Linked DNA regions of Homo sapiens. The protein of the gene in region 1 interacts with the protein of each later gene in a pairwise test. Each region holds a gene or a part of one and is shown in the gene's direction. Other genes may lie near its edges.

Region 1 (3,500 bases):
TACCATTGGGGTTTAGTGGAAAGGATTGTGGACTTGACGTCAGAAGATGTGATTTTTTTCTGTGTCCCTGATGAGTGGCATGACCTTAATCAAGTCATGTCCACTCTCTCTGTCTCTTTTTCTTTCTCTACAAAACAATGAGGGCTCTCACTCTTCAAGAACAATGTTGCCTGAGTCTGTGGCCCATCCTGCCATAGTTCCCGGGACACAGAAGGCACTCAGTATTGCTGAGATTTGCCGACTCTAAAATCTGACGAGGCCGCAGTGCCTTGGTGGGAGGGCTCCCCACTTTCTCTCTCTGGGAGCGTGTCTGTCTGTGCTCAGACATGTATGAAGCACAGATCCTGGCCTGTAAATCCATCCCTGAATCCTGGGCTTCCACTTGGATGGCAGCTTGTGAGTCTGGAGATCGAATCTGCTGAATAATTAGAAAGTCGCCCCCGGTCTTTGTGGATTAGTATCCTTTATCAAATGATGGCTCTTTCACACCCAGGCCCTCCCCCAGTGAACCTCATTGGCAGCATCTTAAAAACAGGAAGACTGAGGCTGCAAAGGGTGAAGGGCCTGCCCAAGGTCCTGTGGTGTGTAGAGCGGTGTCCCCTAAAAATGTTTGTCCACCAGGAACTTGGGAATGTGACCTCACTTGGGAATAGGGCCTGTGCAGATGCGATTGGTTGGGAGGAGGTCACACTGCATTAGGGTGGGTTCCCGTAAGGGTAGAGGCCGCACAGAGACACAGAGAAGCCATGTGCCGACTGAGGCAGAGACTGGAGTGATGTAGCCACAAGCCAAGGGACGCCTGGGGCCACCGGAAACTGGAAGAAGCCAGGAAGGACCCTTCCCAGGAGCTTTCGGGGAGAGCACAGCCCTGCCAACACCTTGATTTTGAACCTCTAGTCTCCAGAAATGGGAGGCAATACATTTCTGTTGTTTGAAACCAATCTAGTCCCCTAACCAGGCTGGCGGAGCAGGGACCTGAACCCACCTCTGTCCTGCTCCATGCTGCCTGGGTTCATGCTGGGCAGCCCCACTTCCTGTGGGAGCCAGCGTTGACCTCACATCTACGCCCCGACCCTAAGCAGGCTGTGTCCTGCCCTTCCATGGCCCATGCTCTCAGCCTGACACCGAGGGGGTGGAGGGGACTCTCTCAGTGATGAGTGACCAGTCACTGCTCTGAAGTGGCCGAGGTCCCTCTTGGGGCAAATGCATGAGGCCCCCTTGCCCGCGTTGGTCCTCCCCAGTGAAACGTGCCCATAGGCACAGGTCCGCAGAGAGAAGGAAACGCAAGGACCCGTTCAGAAGTCGGTGTGACTCACTCTGACGTCAGCAACCTGCAGTGGGTCTTTCCCAGGCCACACTCACTCGCATGGCAAGGCGGTCCTCCCCGACTGCTAAAAACAAAAGTCAGGAAAGGAATTTCCCCACCACCTACACACTCATGCTGCTCCCCACCACCTACACACTCATGCTGCTCTGGGCTGTGCAGCCTCAGTGCCCCAGCTTTCCTAGAGACCGTGGGAGCTTCCCATTTGCCTCTAAAGGCTCACCTCTCACGTGGGAGACAGCAGTGAGCCCCAACTTCGGGGCTCCAGGGAAAGGCTTGCATCAACCTTGACCTTTTTTAGGGGGTGAGCAGATCCTGTTTGTAAGTGCCCTGCCGTGGAGTGGGGGCAGGGTACGTCTGTGCACCGACACGGCGTCTCTAGCAGGAAACTTTAGGTTAGGAGGCTGATTTCCCACTGCAGCCTTGGCGAGCAGGCGCTGCCGTCCTCCAGCAGATGCTGCTGAAGCAGAAATTGGGCAGGCCCAGAGGCTCAGTCAAGGTCACCCTGCAAAAGGGGGCAAAGTGCAGCCTAAAACTAGGTCTATCTGACACCAAAGTTTGTGTTGTTCCCGTCAAGACACAGACCGCCTCCCTAGGACATAAAATACTTTGTGGCTCAACTGAAATCAGATCCTGGCTGCTTTGGTGATGCCAGCTGCTCTGCTCAGACTGACCTGAGAGCCCCTGGCAGGACCAGGGAGGGCTAGGGCCACAGGGGCAGAGGACACCCAAAAAGACCTGAGGCTCAACCACTCCCAGGACTTCCTGCTTCACCAAAACAAGGTGAACCTTAAAGACACTGTGTGTTTTATAGTTTTGTTGCCTAAAGAGTTTTCTTCTTGAAACTCTACGATTAAACAAAAAGCCGTTGAACTGGAGCTCGGGCCTGCAAGTCCAGGCCACTGGGTAACGTGCACACCCCGGGGAATGGAGGAGCCGTTTACTCTGTGCATCTGAATCGTGCATTCGGGCAGCTAGCCTGCAAACCGATAGGCCCCCGAGACCCTGAACCCACATCTCCATATCGTCCTCTTTCCTACTTCCTGGAAAAATCTACAGGGATCCAGCCATCTCCTTTATGATGTGAGTTCTGAGCGGGCCAAATGAGCTCTGAGTTCTGAGAGCCCTTGCCTTGTGGAGGAAGCATGGAGGTCGGAGGAAGGAGACATTTAGGTAACGGTGTCCTGGCACCCTCTGTGTTTCCCTGATTTCACAGACTGCTCCGTGAAGCCTTGCACCAAACAGCTGCATCTGACCTTGGCCCACAAGTTCTACCCCCACCACCAGAGGACGCTGGAGCAGCTGGCCAGAGCCATCCCCCTGGGCCACAGCTGCCAGTGGACCGCAGCACTCTACTCCCGAGACATGCGCTTTGTGCACTACCAGGTGAGAGAGCTGAGCAGGGGCTCATAAGAAGCAGATGAATGGGCTGGGCTCGGTGGCTCACGCCTGTAATCCCAGCACTTTGGGAGGCCGAGGCGGCGGATCATGAGGTCAGGAGATGGAGACCATCCTGGCTAACATGGTGAAACCTCGTCTCTACTAAAAATACAAAAAATTAGCCAGGCACGGCGGCGGGCACCTGTAGTCCCAGCTACTCAGGAGGCTGAGGCAGGAGAATGGAGTGAACCCGGGAGGCGGAGCTTGCAGCGAGTGGAGGTAGCATCACTGCACTCCAGCCTGGGCTACAGAGCGAGACGTCTCAAAAAAAGAAGCAGATGAGTGAACGGCCACTCACCTGACAGCATGTACCCCCTGGAGCCCTCCAAGGGAGATATGTTAGTAGCAAGGAAAATTTCTATTGCTTCTCTAAAGCCATTCTCTTTCTTGTGCAATTTACAACCAGCATTCTTTTATATGTGAGTTAGAGATGCACAGACAACAAAATAGAAGCATTTCCAATATTAGAAAAGGAAGCTGGGTGTGGTGGCTCACACCTATAATCCCAGCACTTTGGGAGGCTGAGGCAGGTGGATCACTTCAGGTCAGGTGTTCGAGACCAGCCTGGGCAACAGGGCAAAACGCTGTCTCTACTAAAAATACAGAAAATTAGCCGGGCGTGATGGCACGAACCTGTAATCCCAGCTACTCGGGAGGCTGAGGCAGAAGAATCACTTGAACCTGGGAGGTGGAGGTTGCAGTGAGCAGAGATCGTACCGTTGCACTCCAGCCTGGG
Region 2 (4,111 bases), on another chromosome or scaffold:
GGTGGGGGCCGGAAGGGTTTGCTTTGGGAGGTTGTCTGGGAGATTGCTGAAGTTTTGATATACACACCTCCAAAGCAGGACCAAGTGGACTCCTAGAAATGTCCCCTGACCCTTGGGGCTTCAGGAGTCAGGGACCCTCGTGTCCACCTCAGCCTTGCCCTTGGCACAGCCCAGCTCCACTCCAGCCTCTACTCCTCCCCAGAACATCTCCTGGGCCAGTTCCACAAGGGGCTCAAACGAGGGCGCCTGAGCTGCCCACACTAGGGATGTTCTGGGGGTCTGAGAAGATATCTGGGGCTGGAAGAATAAAAGGCCCCCCTAGGCCTGTTCCTGGATGCAGCTCCAGCCACTTTGGGGCTAAGCCTGGGCTATAACAATGCCAACGAGGCTTCTTGCCATACTCGGTTTACAAAACCCTTTCACATACATTGTCGCATTGGATTCTCAGAGCTGACTGCACTAAGCAGAATAGATGGTATGACTCCCACTTTGCAGATGAGAACACTGAGGCTCAGAGAAGTGCCAAGCCCTGGGTCACAGAGGCGTAAATGGCAGAGCCAGGACCCACCTGACTCCAGGCTGTTTCCTGGCCTCCATGAGGCCACCTGCCCTATGGTGTGGTGGATGTGAGATCCTCACCATAGGGAGGAGATTAGGGTCTGTGCTCAGGGCTGGGGAGAGCTGCCTGGATTTCTCTTTGATGGGGATGTTGGGGTGGGAACCACGATACACCTGACTAGCTGGGTGTATTTCAGGGATGGGACAGACTTCTCAGCACAGCATGGGAGGTCAGGCCTGGGAGGGCCCCCCAGACCTCCTTGTCTCTAATAGAGGGTCATGGTGAGGGAGGCCTGTCTGTGCCCAAGGTGACCTTGCCATGCCGGTGCTTTCCAGCCGGGTATCCATCCCCTGCAGCAGCAGGCTTCCTCTACGTGGATGTTAAAGGCCCATTCAGTTCATGGAGAGCTAGCAGGTAACTAGGTTTAAGGTGCAGAGGCCCTGCTCTCTGTCACCCTGGCTAAGCCCAGTGCGCGGGTTCCTGAGGGCTGGGACTCCCAGGGTCCGATGGGAAAGTGTAGCCTGCAGGCCCACACCTCCCCCTGTGAATCACGCCTGGCGGGACAAGAAAGCCCAAAACACTCCAAACAATGAGTTTCCAGTAAAATATGACAGACATGATGAGGCGGATGAGAGGAGGGACCTGGCTGGGAGTTGGCGCTAGCCTGTGGGTGATGAAAGCCAAGGGGAATGGAAAGTGCCAGACCCGCCCCCTACCCACGAGTATAAAGCACTCGCATCCCTTTCCAATTTACCCGAGCACCTTCTCTTCACTCAGCCAACTGCTCGCTCGCTCACCTCCCTCCTCTGCACCATGACCACCTGCAGCCGCCAGTTCACCTCCTCCAGCTCCATGAAGGGCTCCTGCGGCATCGGGGGCGGCATCGGGGGCGGCTCCAGCCGCATCTCCTCCGTCCTGGCCGGAGGGTCCTGCCGCGCCCCCAGCACCTACGGGGGCGGCCTGTCTGTCTCATCCTCCCGCTTCTCCTCTGGGGGAGCCTGCGGGCTGGGGGGCGGCTATGGCGGTGGCTTCAGCAGCAGCAGCAGCAGCTTTGGTAGTGGCTTTGGGGGAGGATATGGTGGTGGCCTTGGTGCTGGCTTGGGTGGTGGCTTTGGTGGTGGCTTTGCTGGTGGTGATGGGCTTCTGGTGGGCAGTGAGAAGGTGACCATGCAGAACCTCAATGACCGCCTGGCCTCCTACCTGGACAAGGTGCGTGCTCTGGAGGAGGCCAACGCCGACCTGGAAGTGAAGATCCGTGACTGGTACCAGAGGCAGCGGCCTGCTGAGATCAAAGACTACAGTCCCTACTTCAAGACCATTGAGGACCTGAGGAACAAGGTGGGTGAATGGGCAGCAGAAGGCACCATTCCAGCTAGCTCCTTCTGGGAACAATTCATGCCCCAGGCCCCTGAGACCTTAAGATTTCTCTATAGGACAGAGTCCACCCCAGATCCCTTCTTTCGAGGTCTTGGATGCCCTAAGACTGATCAGTGAGAAGATGCTTTCCCTTCCCCAGCCTCCTCATCCCCTTCTGATCTCAAATCCTCAGACCATGTGAGATCAGTGATTCCTATCCTTACATTTTTTAGAGGAAGCAGTTGAAGCTTCGAGAGGTGCTGTGACCAGCTGCAGGTCACATAGCAAATTAATGGCAGAGCCAAGGCTGGGGCCCTTGTGCCCTACCTTCCAGCACAGGAGGCAGCTACTTGTTCTCCAGCACAGGGGAGGAGTGAGGCTCTAACGGGACCAGGCAAGACATCCAAACCACTCATTAGCTCACTAGTCTGGGCTGTGGCTGCCGCCGCCCATAAGCCTTGGTACAGGCTGGTCCCTCCCCACAGCCAGGCGGGCATGGAGAGCCTGCAGAGACAATTAGTGTGGTCCCTTGATGTGCCCTGCACAGAGAGAGCCTGGCAGGCTTGTGCCCTGACTCTAGCCCCCTCCTCCCTGCTCCCACATTACTTGGGAGCCCTCCCTGCTGGAGTCTGTTGGGCTCTAATGACTTGCATGGATTAGGGAAATTCAATGATGAGGTGGGGAAATCCAACCAGACTCAGGGGCCAATATATCTTCTTATTCTTCCCCTGAGTCCTCTTTTCTAATCCCCTGTGTTAGTTGGGTTTTATCTCTTGAGAAAGTTCCACTTGAAGTCCCATGGCCTGTGAGCTTGAAAAGGAATGTGCATATCTGCAGAGGACTGGCAGGGCTGGCTGATGCAGACAGAAGAGAGGTCAGCTCAGGAAGGAGGGCTAGGGAGCCTCAGATTATTCTCCTCACCTGGAGGTGGGGAACTTGAAGCCCCAAGACCCATTAGGTTTTGCAGCAAGACACTGGCAGAATTGGGACCAGAACTCCTGGGCTTTCGATTCTAAGCCCGGGGCTGCATCTACCCCCTCTGTTGACCATGAGTTAGCAAAGTCTTAGGACAGGCCTGGGGCATCTGTTTTCCTTTGGGCTGCTATGGTCAAGTTTTGTGGGGGAAAAGGGGGATTCAGGCAAGAACATGAAGCAAGAGCTTAATGTAGGCTACAGTGAAGTCCAGCTTGTGAAGTCCATTTGACAAATTACCTGTGCCTTTTCCATCCTGCAGATTCTCACAGCCACAGTGGACAATGCCAATGTCCTTCTGCAGATTGACAATGCCCGTCTGGCCGCGGATGACTTCCGCACCAAGTGAGTTTGAAATGGTGGGCCAGAACATCCAGTGTCCCCAGAGTAGGGCATTTTTGGAGCAGTGTTTCCCAAATAGAACTAGCCAGTACCAGGATAGGTGCATGAAAACTCCCTGGGGTGCTTATAAAAGAATAAGACTCTTGGGCCCCACCCTTGGAGTTTTGATTCAGCTATTTATAGCAGGTTACCTGGGTGATTCTGGTCCACAGCCAGGTTTCAGAACCGCTGCTTTAGGGAGAGGCACTTTCCACTTCCCCAGCTGCCCTTGAAGTATAGGAAGGAATCATAGTTGGAGGACTTCTGCATTATTTGTTGGCTGAAGCTAGAAGTGCAACCCCCTCCTGATTTCTGCAGCAAGATGAACTGCCTTATCCCCAGCCCGCAGGAATGTTCATATCTGAGCAATCAATGGGCACTGTGTTCAACCACGCCATTTTCAAGATTGGCTCCTTAAACCACCCACAAGGCACCAGCTCTGGGAGAAGCTGCAGGGAGAAGAGAACAAAGCCCTCGCTGTGATCAGGATGGGTGTCTCATACCTTTTCTCTGGGGTCATTCCAGGTATGAGACAGAGTTGAACCTGCGCATGAGTGTGGAAGCCGACATCAATGGCCTGCGCAGGGTGCTGGACGAACTGACCCTGGCCAGAGCTGACCTGGAGATGCAGATTGAGAGCCTGAAGGAGGAGCTGGCCTACCTGAAGAAGAACCACGAGGAGGTGAGAACTATATGGAAAAGTCAGCTTAAAAGAAATGCAGGGAGGCTGGGTACAGTGGTGCGTGCCCATAGTCCCAGCTACTTGGGAGGCTGAGACAGGAGGATCACTTGAACACAGGAGTTTGAGTCCAGCCTGGGCAACAAGGCTAGACCCTGTCCAAA
Region 3 (3,050 bases), on another chromosome or scaffold:
GGGTCCTGGTTGTGAAGTGGAGTTAGTGCACATGGATGTCAGGGGACGGGTGTGAGGCATGAGCTGGGGGGGCCCCCTTTTTCAGGGCAGAGAATGAGGCGTGTGCACTGTCTGCTGTGGGGATGGTGTGTTTATGGCCATGTAAGTGGCAGGTGTGTGTAAAGATGTGCTTGTGGGTGGTGGGTGTGTCTGAGGGGGTGTGTTTGGGAGCCTGGCCTCCAAAAGCCAGTGTCTGGGTTGGAGACAGTGCAGGCCCCTTCTTGGCCCCACCCTCTACCCCATTCCTTCCTGTCAGCCCCAGTCTGTCTTGGCACTGGCCAGGCTTGGGTGGAGCCTGTGTCCCAGACAGATCCCCTAGGCCTATCTGAGACCCATACAGGCCCACACCTGAGCTCCTGTCTGCCTGAGGAGGGAAAGGGGGAGTGGCCAGGTCAGGCAGGCCAGTCGTCTACACACCCCCTTGGTACCCATTCCCATTTCACAAACTCCTCCAAACCCCAAACCCCAAACGGAAATCTCTGGGACAATGGCTCCTCCAGAGGGCCCCTCAGAGCCAGGTGCTGGCCAGATGCCTTGATCACAGCCTCCATGGCCAGGGGCCTGTCAAGCCAGGGGCCCACACACCTGGTGCCAGGGTCCACCTTGGTATACCAGCTCGGCAGAACAGTTCCCCACCCAGCGATTAGGGAGCTGGGCTGGCCAGTACAGCCAGTGGGGAGTGGGTGGGAGGCACCAAAACTTGGCAGCTGTGCCAGAAACCAAAGCCAGGCCCAGATGTAGGGGGAGGGCACGAGAGCTGAACCTGAGCCTGGGGCGTCTCGGAGCTGGATCCCCGTCAGCTCATCCAGGCTGGACAAACCAGTTCCTGGGTCCCCCAGCCGGCTGGGTGGCTCTGGGGCCAACCGACCACAGGTGTCACTGATCACAGGTGTCACCGTAGTGGCTACCACCTCAGGGCAGCCCCTCCCTCCAGCTGGCGGGGCCTCAGCTTCCCAGCTGCCCTGGCTTAGCCTTCCCTGCAGCCCCTCCCCAACAGGCTTGGTCCGGGCAGCCTGCTCTGCGGAAGGTGGCAGCCTCCTGGTGCTGGGCTCCCTGCCTCTGGGGCCTCCAGTCCTTCACTCAGTGTCATCCCTTCCAGCAGCTCCCTGGGCCTCTTGGTCCATCCCTTCAGGCTTCTGACACACTAGTGGCCTCGAGTCACTGATAGTGGTGCCTCCTCCTTACCTTGGCAAGCCCTTGTAGCCCTCTGAGCCCTCATCCTGCAGGCAGAGCCCCTCAGTGCTCTGAGAAACCTGCCCTGAACTCACCGCCTCCCCTGCCTGGGCACTCCCTCCTCCCTGCGCCCACAGCCCCCATGCCAATCTCCGTCAGCTCTTTCTGTGCTGCTGTAATTGTTGGTTTGCCTGTCTCCTTTGAGCTGTGGGCATTGCCGGGGTAGGGTGGTGTCTTCACCACAGCTCCAGAAGGCACTGGTGGGATGTGGAGTCAGGAGCAACCAGAGACCCCCCAATACTAGAATGGGTTTGAGCTTGGGGTGGGGTGGATGGGGAAGACTTACTCTGAATGTTCGTTCACCATCCGTGGGCACCAGGTCTGTGCCAAGCACAGGGACTCCAGGGGCAGCTGCCATTCGTTCCAGTGATGTATTTGGGGCCTTCTCAGGTGAGGAAGCCAAGGTGGCCAAGGCCCTCGGTCCCCTGCCCTGATAGGGCTTACCTGTGGGTGGGGGAGGGAGACCACACATGTCAGAGGTAGTGAAGGCCGCTCCAAATAGTGACTGGGGCCAGGCAGGCGGAAAAGAGAACAGAAGAGAATCCAGAAGTGTTCAGACAGAACTAGGGACAACAGAGGGGCCTCCATGGTGGCATGGGTCAGCAGAGCATGGAGCAGGCAGAGGAAGCCTATCTGTGGGGCTGGGTACATTTCTCTGAGACTCACGGAATGTAAGTGTTGAGGTTTCTGCAAAGAGGGCGCAGGCCCTGCAGTGACGGTTCAGATATTGATAACCCATCCCCCTTGGCAGGTGGGGGCTTAGGCATCCATATTGGATTCAGAAAAGAAAAAGAATGATGCTTCTTGCAACAAAAACAAAAGTGATTATGTCACGAGAGGAGAGGCTGGAGGGCCATGGGAGTTCCCAGCTGGCTCACTCATCCGTCCAGGAGGTGGGTCTCATGGTTTCATTTTGCTTTGGGCTTACTTAGAGTTTTGGCAAATGCAGAGTTATGTAACGAACCCAACAATGAAGATACAGTTCTGTCACCCCCCCAGCATTCTCCTGTGGCCCTCTAGTCCACCCCCCGCCCCACCCCAGCCCCTGGCAACCACTGATCTGCTTTCACAATAACCGTATGGGGTTTTTTCTCTTTCCTTTTTTGTGAGCGGTATTTAATTCCTTTGCTCTAATATGTAATATTAGAACATATTACAAAGTAGCAAGAAAAATACGACATTGGTGTAAAAATAATCTACACCTCATGGAAAGAATGAAGAGCCAGAAATAGATTCTATTCTGTAGAAAATCTTACACAATAAAGGACTTCAAAATAAGGGTAAGGAAGGATGCTTTAACAAGCGGTGCTGGGATAACTGGATAAAAATTTGGGAAAAAAGTCATACTATGTGCCACCCCTGCATTTATTTTATTATTTTATTTTATTTATTTTTTTGAGATGGAGTCTCACTGTGTTGCCCAGGAGTGCAGTGGCGTGACCTCAGCTCACTGCAACCTCCGCCTCCCGAGTTCAAGCAGTTCTTCTGCCTCAGCCTCCTGAGTAGCTGAGACTACAGGCGCCTGCCACGACGCCTGGCTAATTTTTTGTATTTTTAGTACAGACAGGATTTCACCATGTTAGCCAGGATGGTCTCGATCTCCTAACCTCGTGATCCACCCGCCTCAGCCTCCCAAAGTGCTCGGATTATGGGCGTGGGCCACGGCGCTTGGCCCACCCCTGCATTTATTGAGTTAAATTTTAAAAATCCTATCCTAGGAAATTGGTGGTGGGGCTCAGAAAATGATACCCCAAAGTATGAAGCTGTGGGAGGCTGAA
Region 4 (3,500 bases), on another chromosome or scaffold:
TCTGTTGGTGTCTCAGCATCGTGAGGACAGAAGCCCAAAACCTGACTCCCTTCCCCAGACCTGTACATTCGGGCAGCGCGTACATTCTGTCTCCCTCTCTCTCTGCGCCCAGAGCCTCAGCTCAGCTGCCTCCTTGGAGGCAGCTACCTACCTCTCCAGTCCTGTCCTGGGGCCATCGTGGGTGTGGGACAGGACCTGTGACTCTTTCCCTTTCTTGTCTAGTCCCCCGCCACACACTCACTCCCATGGTTTGTAGCCCAAGAGTCTCTGGTAGGGCTGCGATAAGGTTGTGTGGTCCTGGATGATTTTACTTAGAACCTGGGTTTCCCCTGGAGAAAGGCTGGCCAGGGTGGCATCTGAATGGGACTGCAGCCTGCTGACAGGAGGCCTGGCCACCTGTCCTGGGGAGCAGCACTGGGCTTTTTTTTTTTTTTAAGATAGGGTCTCACTCTGTGGCCCAGGCTGGGGTGCAGTGGCACTATCACGGCTCACTGCAGCCTTGAACTCCTGGGCTTAAGCGATCCTCCCACCTCAGCCTTCTGAGTAGCTGGGACCACAGGTGTGTGACTCCACGGGGCCTGAGCACCAGGCTGGATGCAGCTTTCTCTTGTAGCTTGACAGGAGCCAGGGAGGGGGATCCCACCTGGAGCTGGTATACCCAACACAGCTGTGGAAAAGTTGACCACAGGCGGCCCCTTCCGCCTGATTGGATTATTGTATGATCATTCATTAAACTGTTTCTCTGTTGTTTTTTTGAAACAGAGTCTCACTCTGTCGCCCAGGCTGGAGTGCAGGGGCGAGATACCGCTCACTGCAACCTCCACCTCCCGAGTTCAAGCAGTTCTCCTGCCTCTGCCTCAGTAGCTGGGACTACAGGCAGGCGCCGCCACACCTGGCTAATTTTTGTATTTTTAGTAGAGACAAGGTTTCACCATGTTGGCCAGGCTTGTCTCGGACTCCTGGCCTCAAGTGATCCGCCCACCTCGGTCTCCCAAAGTGCTAGGATTACAGATATGAGCCACTGTGTCCAGCCTGCTTTTTTTTTTTTTTTTTTGAGATGGAGTCTCATTCCATCACCCAGGCTGGAGTGCAGTGGCACAATCTTGGCTCACTGCAACCTCCGGCTCCTGGGTTCAAGTGATTCTCCTGCCTCAGCCTCCTGAGTAGCTGGCATTACAGGCACCCACCACCACGCCCAGCTAATTTTTGTATTTTTAGTAGAGACGGGGGTTTCACTATGTTGGTCAGGCTGGTCTGGAACTCCTGACCTCAAGTGATCCACCCACCTTGGCCTCCCAAAGTGCTGAGATTACAGGCAGGAGCCACTGCGCCCGGCCTTGTTTTGCTTTCACAAGGCTTTATCTTTTGAGCAGTTTTAGGTTTACAGAAAAATCCAACAGAATGTCCAAAGAGTTGCCATGCCCCTCCTCTCCCATCTGGCACACAGTTTTCTATTCTTCACGTCCTGCATTAGTGTGGAGCATCTGTCACAATTGACAGGATGTTGATACATTATTATTAATAAATGCATGGTTTACCTTCCGGTTCCCTCTTGGTGGTGTACATTCTCTGTGATTACAGTATCATAAGAGTAGTTTCACTGCCCTAACATTTTTCTGTGTTCCCCCCTACTCATCTCACCCTCTTCCTACCAAACCCCTGGCAACCACTGATCTTTTACTGTCCCCTTAGTTTTGCCTTTTCCAGAACGGTCTATAGTTGGAATCAGACAGTATGTAGCCTTTTCAGATTGGCTTCTTTCACTTAGTGCAATATACATTTAAGGTTCCTCTGTGTCTTTTCACAGCTTGAGAGCATATTTCTTGCTTGTTTTTTAAATTATTTTATTTTATTTTATTTGAGATGGAGTCTCGCTCTGTCACCCAGACTGGAGTGCTGTGGCATAATCTTGGCTCACTGCAGCCTCTTCCTCCTGGGTTCAAGCAATTCTTGTGCCTCAGCCTTCTGAGGAGCTGGGACTAAAGGCACACACCACCATGCGCAGCTAACTTTTGCATTTTTAGTAGAGATGAGGTTTCACCATTTTGGCCAGGCTGGTCTCGAACTCCTGACCTCAGGTGATCTGCCCGCCTCAGCCTCCCAAAGTACTGGGATTACAGGCGTGAACCACCGCGCCCAGCCTGTTTTTTAAATAGGGTGCTGTGTTGCCCAGGTTGGTCTTAAAACTCATGACCTCAAGCAATCCTCCCTCCTCAGCCTCCTAAAGTGGCTGAGAGCTCATTTTTTTTTCAGCACTGAATAATATTCTGTTGTCTGGATATACCACACTTTTATCACCTGCTGTTTCTTTGTTTTTTATGATTATTATAAAAGAGATAGCTAATCATCATTAAATGTATATCAACCGAAAAGAGAACATTTAAAAAAATCCCTGAGTCCCTCTGTGGGGCATTTCATTCTATGTTCTACTATGTTCTTTAAATTTTTTTTCTTGTACATTCTTTCTAGTCCAAATCATATTCTTCTGGAAACAGAAAAGGCTTTCTGTCCGGCTTGCTAGATAATGTCAAACAAGAATTAGCCAAAAACAAAGAAATGAAAGAAAGTATAAAAAAATTCCGTGACGAGGCCAGAAGGCTAGAAGAATCAGACGTGCTCCAGGAGGCCAGAAGGAAATACGTGAGTTTCTTTGCTGCTTTTTTTTCCCTCACCCAGGCTGGAGAGTAGTGGTGCGATCTCGGCTCACTGCAACCTCCACCTCCCAGGTTCAAGTGATTCCCCTGCCTCAGCCTCCTGAGTAGCTGGGCTTACAGGCGCGCACCACCACGCCCAGCTAATTTTTGTATTTTTAGTAGTGAAGAGGTTTCACCATGTTGGCCAGGCTGGTCTCGAACTCCTGACCTCAAGTGATCCGCCCGCCTCAGCCTTCCAAAGTGCTGGGATTACAGGCGTGAGCCACCGCGTTGGGCCCCTTTGCTTCTTACCTTTCTTGGTTGACATGTTTGTTTCCAGGGCCAGGGTTTCTCCAGGCCAGGGACAGCCAGAGGAGCTCAGGGCTGGACGGTTGGGGGCAGGGTGGCTCGTGAGGAAGTGAGGTCACTGCTCTGATGCACTAATGAGAGGGAGCCAGGGGACAGGTGCGGGTCTCCAGGCCTCTGGGTTCTGCCATGAGACCATGCAGCGTTCTGTGCAGCTTGAAGCGTGGTCCCCAGACCAGCAGCAGTGGCTCCTCCTGGGAGTGGATGAGCAGTGCAGAGGCTCACACCCTCCCAAACTGCCAGGCCAGCGCCCGCATCTTCACAGGCCCCCAGGCAACGCATGCACACCAGCTATGGGATGCAGCGCTCCTGAGAGCTCCCAGCTGTAGCCCTCTGAGTGGAGCCTGGTGGAAACTGGGTGATGGTGCTGGTATTTTATTTTATTTTATTTTATTTTATGAGATGGAGTCTTGCTCTGTCATCCAGGCTGGAGTGCAGTGGCGTGACCTTGGCTCACTGCAACCTCCAGCTCCTGATTCTCCTGCCTCAGCCTCCCGGATA
Region 5 (3,500 bases), on another chromosome or scaffold:
CCCTGCAGGTGTCATACTGGGCATTTGATCTGGGATGTCTTTGTCCATGCCTTGGTAAAGGGGCAGTCTGTCAGATTAGGGAAACTGAGGCAGGATTGGTGTGGCTCCATATCTGCCAGTAGTCACTAAGTGACCTGGGGCCCAACTCTTGGCCAGAAGTCCTGAAGCCGCCTGCCCTGCAGATGCCTTGGGTGTGGCCTGCTTGGCCCTTTTAAAACTCTTAAATGAGGTTCCAGCCTTAAAGGACCACAGCTTCACAGCCGGCTCCAGGGTCCTCTGGAGAGAGGGAGGGATGCGGCCGCGCTGGGCCTTCTCTCCTTCCGCCTCGCGTTGGCAGTCCTGCTGGGGTTCCTTCCCTTGCCCGCGAGGCATCTGATCCTGAGAGTCCGGCTCTCAAGCTGCGACTGGGAATGGGCCCCAGCAGCCTCCCTGCGCTCCTCGGAACAAATGCAGGCACGAAGAGGATTCTGCGAGCTGCCGCGGGTGGAGAGCCGTGTTTATATTGGTGCCGCTTCATACACACATCATGTTTTGAACTTGACTCCAAGGCCTTTGCGGGGAGGCACCTTTCTCTCCCCCAAGGGGTCTTTGCTGGTGGATTCACGGTGCCTGCCCAGAGGGATGTGTGGGACTTAGTGTGGGGAGGGAGCCCATGCTTGATGAACTCGGCCTGAGTGGGCCCTGATCAGTGCGTCGTAGAGGCCCGCATGCTGAGTCTCAGGCATCCCTGGGGTGGTGTGGGGTGGGGACCGACAGTGTCAGGGCGTGGCTGTCCCAGGCCAGGTGAGTCCCGGGACCAGGCCTGTGGAGAGGGTGGCTGCCCACAGCCCTGCTCCCGTGATGCCAGGTGGGAACACGGCTGGGGCCAGGGACGGTCGGTGCGCGTGCCCTTGGGTCTCTGGTTTGCGACCGACCTCGCCAGCAGGCACTGCATGGTCCACTCCCCAGAGAATGCATTCCTGTCCCCTAAAGCTGAGCGTCTCCTGGAAGCAGCACCATGGGTGTGAAAGTGCGTGGAAGGTGCCTCCTCACCCCATGCCCAAGGGTGGTCTTCGTTGGACCTGTTTGTGGGCCCCAATGCTGCTGTGCCTGACCAGCCTTCCTCCCGCACAGCATCCGCGCCGGTGGGGCTTGACTGGAGCTGGATGGAGATTTCGGGGCCTCCTTGGCCCAGGGTGTTGCCTTCCTGATGGGTGGGGGTGACCCGGCTGCTGGCTGGAGCACCTCTCTTGCCCCCCTCAACACCTCCAGGTCTGGGCATGTCCAGGGGCATCCAGGAGGGTCTGGGTTCCGGCCTCTGCTCACCTATACCCTCTGCCTGTGCTCCACTCTGCCCCGCACTCCGTGCCCTGCACCAAAAGCCTCAGTGCCCACCTTACAGGGAGCCCTCCAGGGTCTTCCATTAGATGCTCCCTCTGCGATTCCAGAGCAGGTCATGTCTCTTTGAGGGTGGATGGGTTTGGGCCACCCTTGTTCTGGTGGAGCCAGGATGGAATTGAGCATCCCGTGTCTGGGTCCACCTCCAGGGAGCACTACATGCTGAGCACATGTCCCCCGCACATCCTGCTGCCCACTGTCCCCCTGCTGCCCACCGTCCCCCCGCTGACACAGGGAGACTGCGATGGACTCAGAGAGGGCCCCCAAGAGCCAGGCTGGGACCCGGGCCCTCTGAGAGAGCCACTGTGCTTCCCTGCCACCACCCTGCTCCTCTCCAGGGTGCTCCTGAGCCGTAGTCTCGGCAACCCTTGCAAATCTCCATCTCCCTAAGCCTGGACCCAGGCCCTTGGCTCACCAAGTCTAGCCAGCAGTCAGTTGTAGTTTCTCTTTTCTAGAGAGTTTTTCTCTCTCCTCTCCCATGTGAATTTTCCTGGGCCAGTGACCCAATGGGAGTTGGTGGCCCAGGGACCAGGGTGACGCTCTTATGCGCTACTGAGCCCGGTGCTCATTTCTGGGAGCGTTTTTCTCACTCTGTGGATACAGACGTCCAAAAGTCAGATCCCCCTGCCCCTGGGGCCGAGCCTGGCGGGGCCAGGAGAGCCGTGAGGGTTTGTCCACACCCATTCAGTCTGCAGGGGCCTCCTCCATTGCCCCTGCATCCCACCGGCCCTGCAGCCCCAGCTACCGTCTCACTGCTGTCTGGGTCCTGCGGGCTGCCAGGGCCCGGGACAGGGACAAAAACAGCCACACACCTCCCTCCCTCCAGGGCTGATGTGGGCTGGGCCCCTGGAGACAGCTGGGGAAGGGGGAACTGGGGTGAAGAGTGCACAGGGTTGGGGGGCAGGGAATTGCAGGCCCCGGGGGTGGGGGGGCGTGGGTGTTACACAAAGCCAGCCCTGTGTGTACCCTGAATGCGGCTTTATCCTGAGTGCTAACAGACGGACCTGGGCCCTACAGAATCAGGCCAGGCTGCCCCGGCCCTGGACCTGCCTGTCTGGGGAGACAGGAGGTGTGGCCACAGCGACCTGGGTCTGAAGCCTGATCTCTCCTGGCCAGGAACATGCGGGTGTCCCACAGGCGGCCCAGGGCTTGGGGCCTGAGTTCCCAGCAGGCAGGGCCGAAGCCTTCTCGGGGCTTGGGAAAGCCCCACCAAGCCTAGTGGGAGGACGCGCCAGCTCTAGGGTCTTGGACTTCTCGAGGCAATCACTTTTCCCTCTGAGCCCGTGTCTCCTCACCCGTGAAATGGGGATGATAATAAAAACGCCCGTTCTTAGGTGTGCTCAGCCCACAGCATGACCGACTGGATTGGATCATTCTTTGTCATGGGGGACAGTCCTGTCGGTGCAGGACGGTTACCACAGCCCCTGGCCTCCACCCACTCCATGCCAGGAGTACCCCCCAGTTGTGACAACCAAAAATGGCTCCAGACATCGCCACATGTTCCCTGGGTGCAGACGTGGCCCCAGCTGAGAAACACTGGCTCATTAGCAGTGTAGACAATGGCGCGCTGAGCCCTGGGTGCAGATGCGGCCCCAGCTGAGAAACACGGGCTCAGTAGCAGTGTAGACAGTGGCACGCTGAGCCCTGGGTGCAGACGCGGCCCCAGCTGAGAAACACTGGCTCAGTAGCAGTGTAGACAATGGCGCGCTGAGGGTGGCACAGATGCATAAAGTGCCCGAGACGGGGAAGTTCTGGAAAACCTGTTGGGGAAGAAGGAGTGGCAGTGGACACAGGTGTGGGAGTGCTTCTGTGTGGAGAGGCGTCTGCCACTTCACAGACAGTGACATTCCCACCTAGGATGGGCTGCTTTCCTGCCTTGGGGAGAGCGAGGCTGGTGGCAGGAGATGGCTGGGCCCCCCGGGTTTGGAGTGTGCTTGCCTGGGCTGTCTGATGGCCCGAGCGCCTGGCATCGGCTCTGCACGGCCTGTTTTTTCTCCAGTTGCCACCTGACACCTGCCCACCCCGATCCCCCTCCCCCGGCTTTGGTTCCTCGGTCCTGGGAGGAGGAGGAACTGAGTCAGTGGCACTGGGCTTGAACTGGGGCCCCCAGGGAGCCTGGCTAA
Region 6 (4,003 bases), on another chromosome or scaffold:
TCAACTATTCTATTTGCATTTAGGAGACTGTTCATCTATGCTAGATTGTCATTTTCCCTCCTTCTCCCACAGAAGTTTACTGGTAGTCCATGTCATGGCTCGTAGCTATCCCTCTAACCATACCATGGAAATGCAGGCACCCAATGTGAAAAGGAGCACTTGCTGGGCATCACTGACACCGCTCATGTTTTACACATAGTTGAGTAATCAGCATATCTAGAATTATCTTGCATTGCCTAAATCATATGTATATAGTGAATGTTATATAATATACCTGGCAGGTCTGTTTTAATTTAATTGAATAAAGATACAAATACTTTGTTTGGCTGGCATATATTAAATTATTATATGAAGAAAATGGTTGATTCTTATTTCTTTTAGTTGAAAAACACACAAAAACACTAAACATAAAAGCACGTTTTGTGGTACGCCTTGGTTTCTAGTTCTGGATATATGTATTAATCTTAAAGAATGATCTAAAGTCACAGCTTGGCATATAGGAAGATACTTGGTTAGAATAGGATGGGTATCTTTTAAGCAGAACTTTGTAAGTAAGTTTTAAGTTCCTAAGCAACAAGTATACAGTTTGTTAAGGTTTATATTGAACATTCTACCTTGCTTGAGGTTTTCTGCTTTATCAAAACTATTCATAATAGAACATCTACCTGCATCATTACTATCATAATATGGATTATTCATAAAGCGTATGTACTGTTCTTCTGAGTCTAACAAATACTGTGACTGAAATGCATGCACCTTGTTGAAGAGAAAACATTTTATTAATCTCCACTATAATGTCTGTGAAATGTGCAGTATTCCATCCTTAGAGAGTTTATCTGGTTCATCAGCATCTGCATGTATCCTCTGAATAATGAAGCAACATTTCAGCAATTCTGTTAACCACACCATTAGAGACATTTTTAGAAGTGCTGCAACATGGTGGGAACCTAGTACTTTAATAATTTCCTATGATATTTATTAGAGCATAAAATGTACATCACGATAGTACAGTATGTAGTCCTTTAAGACCAGAAGGTATGTTAACTGCACCATCATTAAGCAGTCTATCCTATTTTCTTATTTATTTGTTAGAATTGAATCCTTTCTCAATATCTGTACCATTCCTATGATGGTAGCCATTCTTCTCTTTATAAAATATTTCCTCTTTGAAAAGCGTCCTAAAACATTAATTTCAAATCCCCTCTTGGATGCAAAGTGTCCCTAAGACCATCCATTCAACAGTATTTATGTGAGCCAACTTACTAGAGCCGCTACAACTAATCATGATAGACAGTCCAGAATCTCCCTGGACTTTATACTGGGCCAGCCTCATTGTCCCTAAGATTTCTCTTTTTATGTCTCATGGATTACTTCTCTTTTTAATTGCCCCAGGCACATTCCAAATGAGAACCTGGTAAAAGTCACATTGGACCCCCTTCAGTATGTCTTCGGCTAATGTGTTAGCCTTCAATAAGGTGATAACCCCTTTTCAACCTATCTAGTCTATAAAGAGGAAAAATTCAGATTTGGAGTTCTAATCCTATTTCTCCCAAAGGGAACTATTCTTCTACCCCATGGTTCTAGGAGACCACTTCACTGTGCAACAGTTTTACATGCATTGTGGATGGAGGATATTTTTATTCTGAACTGTTACATTTAGGTAAAAATATTTTCTGCAGTGGTAACTGATTAGAAAAATGCCAATTGGATGCCCTTAGGTGGAGGTGAGAAAATGGCATCCTTGCCTTCTTCTCAATATGAAACATTAACTAGTTGACAAATTTATCCTTGTAGTAATGAAAATCTATTTAATCAGGGACCAGAAATGGCTGAGGAGATAAATGCATCATTACAAAATTCTGCTTTTGAATCCTGGACATTACAAGGGGGTAAATGCAGCATGACTTTTTGTTAACCACATTCCAAAATGTGGAACATTTCTTTTAGAAATGAAAATATTTCAAGGCTGATGTATTTTAAGACTACACATTATCAGGAAACATACATTGAGAGTTCGCTTAATTAAAGGTTGTTGGGCATCAAATTATGTTTAGTAGGTTACTATTCTCTAACAACTCAAGGATGCTTTAATGGATCTGAATTTGACAAAGAGCATGCCACACTAATACTACAGTCAACAACAGCCCAGAGAACAATTACTATGTCAGCTGGAGGCTATATTATGATTCTAAATTCTTAAAGGTTTTTTTCCCTCCATAAATCAAAAATTACCTTATGTAAACCAAAAATTAGTTGGTATTTATGGTCATGATCTTAATTCTCAAGTTTAGCTTAATCTTGTATTTCATTGTTTGTCTTCTAATATGACAGCTTAAATTCAGATTTTTAAGTGACTCAGCAAAATAGGAGGAGTGTCCCAATTTATTAGTGTTGTACATATTGAAGAAAACCTTTTTGTTCCTTCAGATTTAGAAAGAAACAGTTTAACCATTTATTTCTTGGTATTCTGCTGCTGTGAATAGGTTTACTTATTCTTTTAACATATATTGTGTGACTACGCAAGTATAGGTCCTGTTGTATTGCATTAATCTTTACCAGTAACTAAACATCACAAGGTTAATATTGGTTTGGCTGAAAGAATTATGCAGTAAAGTTATTTATAAGGGAACATGATGACTTTATTCAATATTTTTCTTCTTTGAAACATCTCATTACTAACTTTTAAGATTATTTCATAATCCCTTATACATGAGCCAATGAAATATTTTGAGCTCTACTTAAGAAGCATGAAGTCTATATTATAAATCTAAACAACAAAAGCACTTGTAACTTGTTTAGTAAATTCCATGCCTTATTTTCCATTTTTGACACCGTAAAGTGCATTTTCTGTCGACTGTGAGCAAATTTCCCTTTTGCCTTTAATGAAAATAGTGCATTAAGTAGCCAATTGCTGCAGAATTATAAAGCAAATTAGCTAACAGTGGGTCACATTGGACTACCACTCAAAGAAACAAGATGCATAACAGATGATGGAAGGTACATGTGGTGTGGCTTAGGGAGAGCGCACCTGTGCCAGATGCATGCCACTTTCAGTAGCTGCCAAATGTGCCTTTAATTAAGAACATCTCTAATTTTTTTCTTCAGATCAAGTCAGCATTTGGGGTCGGGATTTGGGCAGGGAACTTTGGGGTGCAAATATCTGGTGAAACCACCAGAGAATTTGTTTGTCAAAGTGACATGTATAATTTTAGTTGAGACGTGTTTGTGTATATATGTGTATTTGCCTTTGTTTAGTAGCACGGTTATTTGCTAAAATAATTGTCAAAAAATTGCTCTGTCGGTCGGTCTTTGATGTAAGAACAAAGTGTGGTCTATACATCTAATATGGCCTTTGTACCTAACCATGTTCATAGGTAATCTTTGTACTCTGTGTGCAGCAGTATTTGGTTTGCATTTAAAGTGAAAATAACGGCTGTTATTTTTCTGGCATTACTAAGATAAACTGAAAAATAATAAAGAAAAATGCCTTACATAGCCCACAAGTGTATTATTTTTGCATGTATTTATTTTAGAGGGCAGTATTTTTGAAATCATTAGTGATTCTCATTTAGCTCATATATGCCATATAGAAATATTTTGCATTTTTATTGTGGTCTTTCTTTGGAGGCACTTTTTTCCTGTATCAAGTTATAAAAGGATAAAAGAAGTTCCACATTTCCTCTGTGTCAAATCTGCTGATTGATTGTAGTGAGTGGGAGGCCTCTGGGATGAAAACTAGTAATTTAAAGTGACCTTGAGTGTCACCTGGATGAAGTTTCAGAGTGCTAAGGCATTTGTATTCCATAAAAGAAGTTTTGAGATATCACGTTCCCTGACAGGCAGCTTTTGCTGAGATCTGCTGGAATGAGGTAGCCTGACCTTTAGCAATTCTTTTTCTAGGCTTGGCATGAAAATGTGAGTTTAGGGTTGTAACTAAAGAATGATGCAAATGTACCGTCATTCAGTGTGAACTATAGGATGTAAAAATTGATGAATCCTTAGA
Region 7 (3,500 bases), on another chromosome or scaffold:
GCATCTTTCAACAGTAGCATGGAAGCGATTCAAGAAGAGTTAGGAATAGAAGGAAAAATTGGAGCCATTTGCTACATAATTGTAGAAAAGACTTTATGGTGATTTCTGAACATTTCCAATGTTTAAAGACAGTTGGGATAAAACATGGATTTATCATAGCTCCTCTTTTCCAGGTAGCTTGAAATTAGTCTGCATCCTTTTTTAGTTTCTTTGGTTAAATCTGCATTTATCTCTTATTATCTCAAACCACACCATTCTTCCTAAGAAGTTCCAGTGGCAAATACTTTCTAGTCAGCAAGGTAGTTTCACCACACAGTTAATTACGTATAGTTTTAAAGCAGTCTGCTAGTTTCAAGACAGGCACTGTCTGCATTTCCTATGAAGAATTGTTAGACGAACCTAAAAGATTACTAGGTATTCAAGATCAAGATCAATGGAAATTAGATTAGCCAAAACAAACAAAAACCAAAACTCTGTATGTTCTTTACCATCTTTATTTTATTTGTTCTTCACTGACATTTATTATGGCAAGTACTTGTGGTTACTGGTTTATATGTGGGAAAGATAGCAAAGAAAGGGGTGACAGAGGAGGTGGAGAAATGAGGTCAGAAATTGAGCATGGCCAAATGGATAAAATGAGATATGATAGCACCTTTAATAGCCAGATATGAAATTATGTATTTTTCGTGACTGAATTAATCATAATAGTGCTAGTGCCAAAGACATAGGAAAAAATTATCAAAATATCTTTAGTAAATAGTTTGAGAGTAAAGTAACAATATAGATCCCAAAATTATTAGGGTGTTTTGAAGGTAGAACCCTGCATATATAGCTAACATTTTTCATTTCTTATTCTATTCTAATTCATTGATCGTGACTCAAAAAATACAGATTCAAAACTGTTTACTAGTCAGATATGTATGTTCACAACAGTCTGACAAAAATAAAATTAGTGTTCGATATTTAGCTGATATTTAGGATTTGAAATATGCAGTTATCTTCTGTGAATACAAAATTGGCACTTGCTGCTTGGGTATGTGGCCTTAATTCGGCAGTGCCAGCACCCACAAAGCTATTGACTGTTGGGATCTTTGTCCGTAATTAGCATTAGCTGCCACCAGTAAGTTATAGCATTTTGATAATGGCTTAGTGACTGAAGAGTTAGACATCTTATAGGCATAATTATCTTAAACAGAGATTCAAACATTTTAAACATGCTTTTCTACCCCCTAAAAAGGCACATGACTTATTTAATACAAAATTATTTTTAATTGAAGTCACAATGAAATTTTGTAAAGCAAAAAATAGAAAACTTTCTTAAATTTCTCAAACTACTTTGCATTCAGTATGCCATTTAATCTTTTTAACAGTTCTATGACTATCCCCATTTTAATGCAAAAAACTAAATCCCAGAAATTTTAGACTTATACCAGTTACATAGCTGGTATTTTAAATTCTGACTTCAAACCTTAAGTACACGTCCCTGAAGGCTAGAAAGTTAATTATTTCAGTCACTACTTAATGTAATAGAGGATTCCCTGAAAACTGAGCAAAATGTTTTCTTCAGTTCCCTGTATTCAATATCCTAAGCAGTTTATGGTATATAGCCTATTCAAAGGAAAAGAGAGCATGGATAAATTTTAACGTATATTTCACAGGATAGTTTTGATGCTTCTAGATTTTCCTTGATGAAGTGACATAATGAATATATTTTTTATAATTTAGATTAGTTTCTGGATGATACATCAGTCCTAAGTTGACTACCAACTTTGGGGTCTTCATAAGTAACACAGTAATGACATTTGGCACAGGCTTGATCTCTGAATATAGAATTAAGACTGCAAACCAGCTCTGTTTCAGGAATTTAAGTCATAAGAATATATAATCAGGTTGCATCAGAACAGAAAGAATAATTTTATTGCAGCAGAATCTGTCACAGTGTGTAGATGTGAGCATACATTTGAATTGTATACTTACACTCTTATTCATGAAAAAATCTATTTTTAGAGTAAGTGGTTAAAGGGATGATTACATCTCACATGCGCATTTAATCATCTTGTCCACTATAATTTTGCTGTCTGGTCTCAGAAAGGGAAAAAAACTTTGGACAATACTTATTACTTTATTGACTGTGTTAGTTTCTTCTTCTTAAGTAGACTGTTGTCATCTCTTTTCTTTTGAGTCCAATTTTCCTATAGTTTGTTTATGTCAATGGCTCGACAAAATGATAAAATATATTTCCAGAAAGCACATGGATTTGGAACTCTCTCTTGTTATGTTTATATTAGGCTTTATTTTAAAGGCAAGTGAGACTGCTTCAAATAAAACAACTTCAAGCTTCCAAGAAACAGTTAAGAGGAGGCAGAGAAGAGCAGAAACACTTCTTTGCTGACACTTACACTGTTGCCATGGACCTACATAAGCAGTGGGAGAACACAGAGACTAACTGGCATAAGGAAAAGATGGAATTACTGGACCAGTTTGACAATGAAAGAAAGGAATGGGAAAGTCAATGGAAGATTATGCAGAAGAAAATAGAAGAGGTACACTTTAATTTGTTTTGGATATACTGTAATGTTTAAGTGCAGGATGAAAATTCTGTGGGCTGTTTTGTATTGGAAACTGTTTTTGATTTCCTTATTCGACCTAAGAGGTACATTTCTCAGTGACATTTACTAGAACAAAAATAGCATAATCTTATCCAATGGTATTGTAAGGATTATTTTATATCATTGCATGAAAATTAAGCATTTGAAATGTCACTCTATAATGTTTCAACTTATTATTTTCTGGCTAGAGAGCTTTTTTATCAAAAGTGAGGTATGTATTTTGCATGAATTTTCAAATACCAGGTCCAGGAGTAAAATGCAAGAAAGATATACTTGGTGGGACATAGATTAGCAAAATTATAGTTGGGCATTAGAACATAGATCTTTCCTAAGAAGATTTATGAGTAATGTCTATTAAAGGAAATTACATGTTAGATAATGCAGTATAATCAAAAGGAGTATCATATATCAAACAGAAAATGGCAGTAGACATGAGATTTATTCTATCAAGGTGTGCACATTTAGTGGCATATTTATTGGAAAAGGAGTTATGAAAAATGACATATCACGACTCTGACACAGTCATTTTGTTCCCGTTAACCCTCCCTCAGTCCGTTGACCCTGAAATATTTCCTTCAAGCATTTGCATTGATGTATATTCAAGCTTTTGCACCAATTGGAAATAATTTATGCTTATCTTGCTTTCTTTTGGTAACATCCTTAGTATTGACTTTATATGGTTTTATGCACATTACCAAAGTTGTTATTTTAAGACTTCTTGGCCTTTTTTGCAGGCAAAGTAAGTGCTTTATGTGTTTATAGTACAGTCATGTTTCTTATTAACAGCCATGTAATTGACTGTGAATAAAATATGAATTGGCATAGTAGGAAGAAAGCTGAAGAAAAGTAACTATTAAGCCCTTCCTCTAAAATAGAGCTGAGAAGGCAGGC

The links.
Region 2: the proteins of UBASH3A (region 1) and KRT14 interact in binary tests that used the Homo sapiens proteins (3 or more experiments, as listed by UniProt).
Region 3: the proteins of UBASH3A (region 1) and N4BP3 interact in binary tests that used the Homo sapiens proteins (3 or more experiments, as listed by UniProt).
Region 4: the proteins of UBASH3A (region 1) and TIMM44 interact in binary tests that used the Homo sapiens proteins (3 or more experiments, as listed by UniProt).
Region 5: the proteins of UBASH3A (region 1) and PMEPA1 interact in binary tests that used the Homo sapiens proteins (3 or more experiments, as listed by UniProt).
Region 6: the proteins of UBASH3A (region 1) and SOS1 interact in binary tests that used the Homo sapiens proteins (3 or more experiments, as listed by UniProt).
Region 7: the proteins of UBASH3A (region 1) and KIAA0408 interact in binary tests that used the Homo sapiens proteins (3 or more experiments, as listed by UniProt).

The regions. Positions count from the first base shown.
Region 1 is NC_000021.9:42,413,902-42,417,401, forward strand, and holds part of UBASH3A (ubiquitin-associated and SH3 domain-containing protein A), read left to right. Parts: exon of another isoform or gene 1-2,407; intron 2,408-2,540; coding exon 2,541-2,710; intron 2,711-3,500. UniProt on the Homo sapiens protein: Interferes with CBL-mediated down-regulation and degradation of receptor-type tyrosine kinases. Promotes accumulation of activated target receptors, such as T-cell receptors, EGFR and PDGFRB, on the cell surface.
Region 2 is NC_000017.11:41,584,096-41,588,206, reverse strand, and holds the start of KRT14 (keratin, type I cytoskeletal 14), read left to right. Parts: upstream 1-1,311; 5' UTR 1,312-1,372; coding exon 1,373-1,897; intron 1,898-3,149; coding exon 3,150-3,232; intron 3,233-3,793; coding exon 3,794-3,950; intron 3,951-4,111. UniProt on the Homo sapiens protein: The nonhelical tail domain is involved in promoting KRT5-KRT14 filaments to self-organize into large bundles and enhances the mechanical properties involved in resilience of keratin intermediate filaments in vitro.
Region 3 is NC_000005.10:178,123,532-178,126,581, forward strand, and holds the end of N4BP3 (NEDD4-binding protein 3), read left to right. Parts: 3' UTR 1-2,550; downstream 2,551-3,050.
Region 4 is NC_000019.10:7,937,167-7,940,666, reverse strand, and holds part of TIMM44 (mitochondrial import inner membrane translocase subunit TIM44), read left to right. Parts: intron 1-2,469; coding exon 2,470-2,640; intron 2,641-3,500. UniProt on the Homo sapiens protein: Essential component of the PAM complex, a complex required for the translocation of transit peptide-containing proteins from the inner membrane into the mitochondrial matrix in an ATP-dependent manner.
Region 5 is NC_000020.11:57,661,516-57,665,015, reverse strand, and holds part of PMEPA1 (protein TMEPAI), read left to right. Parts: intron 1-3,500. UniProt on the Homo sapiens protein: Functions as a negative regulator of TGF-beta signaling and thereby probably plays a role in cell proliferation, differentiation, apoptosis, motility, extracellular matrix production and immunosuppression.
Region 6 is NC_000002.12:38,981,049-38,985,051, reverse strand, and holds the end of SOS1 (son of sevenless homolog 1), read left to right. Parts: 3' UTR 1-3,503; downstream 3,504-4,003.
Region 7 is NC_000006.12:127,452,890-127,456,389, reverse strand, and holds part of KIAA0408 (uncharacterized protein KIAA0408), read left to right. Parts: intron 1-2,288; 5' UTR 2,289-2,408; coding exon 2,409-2,543; intron 2,544-3,500.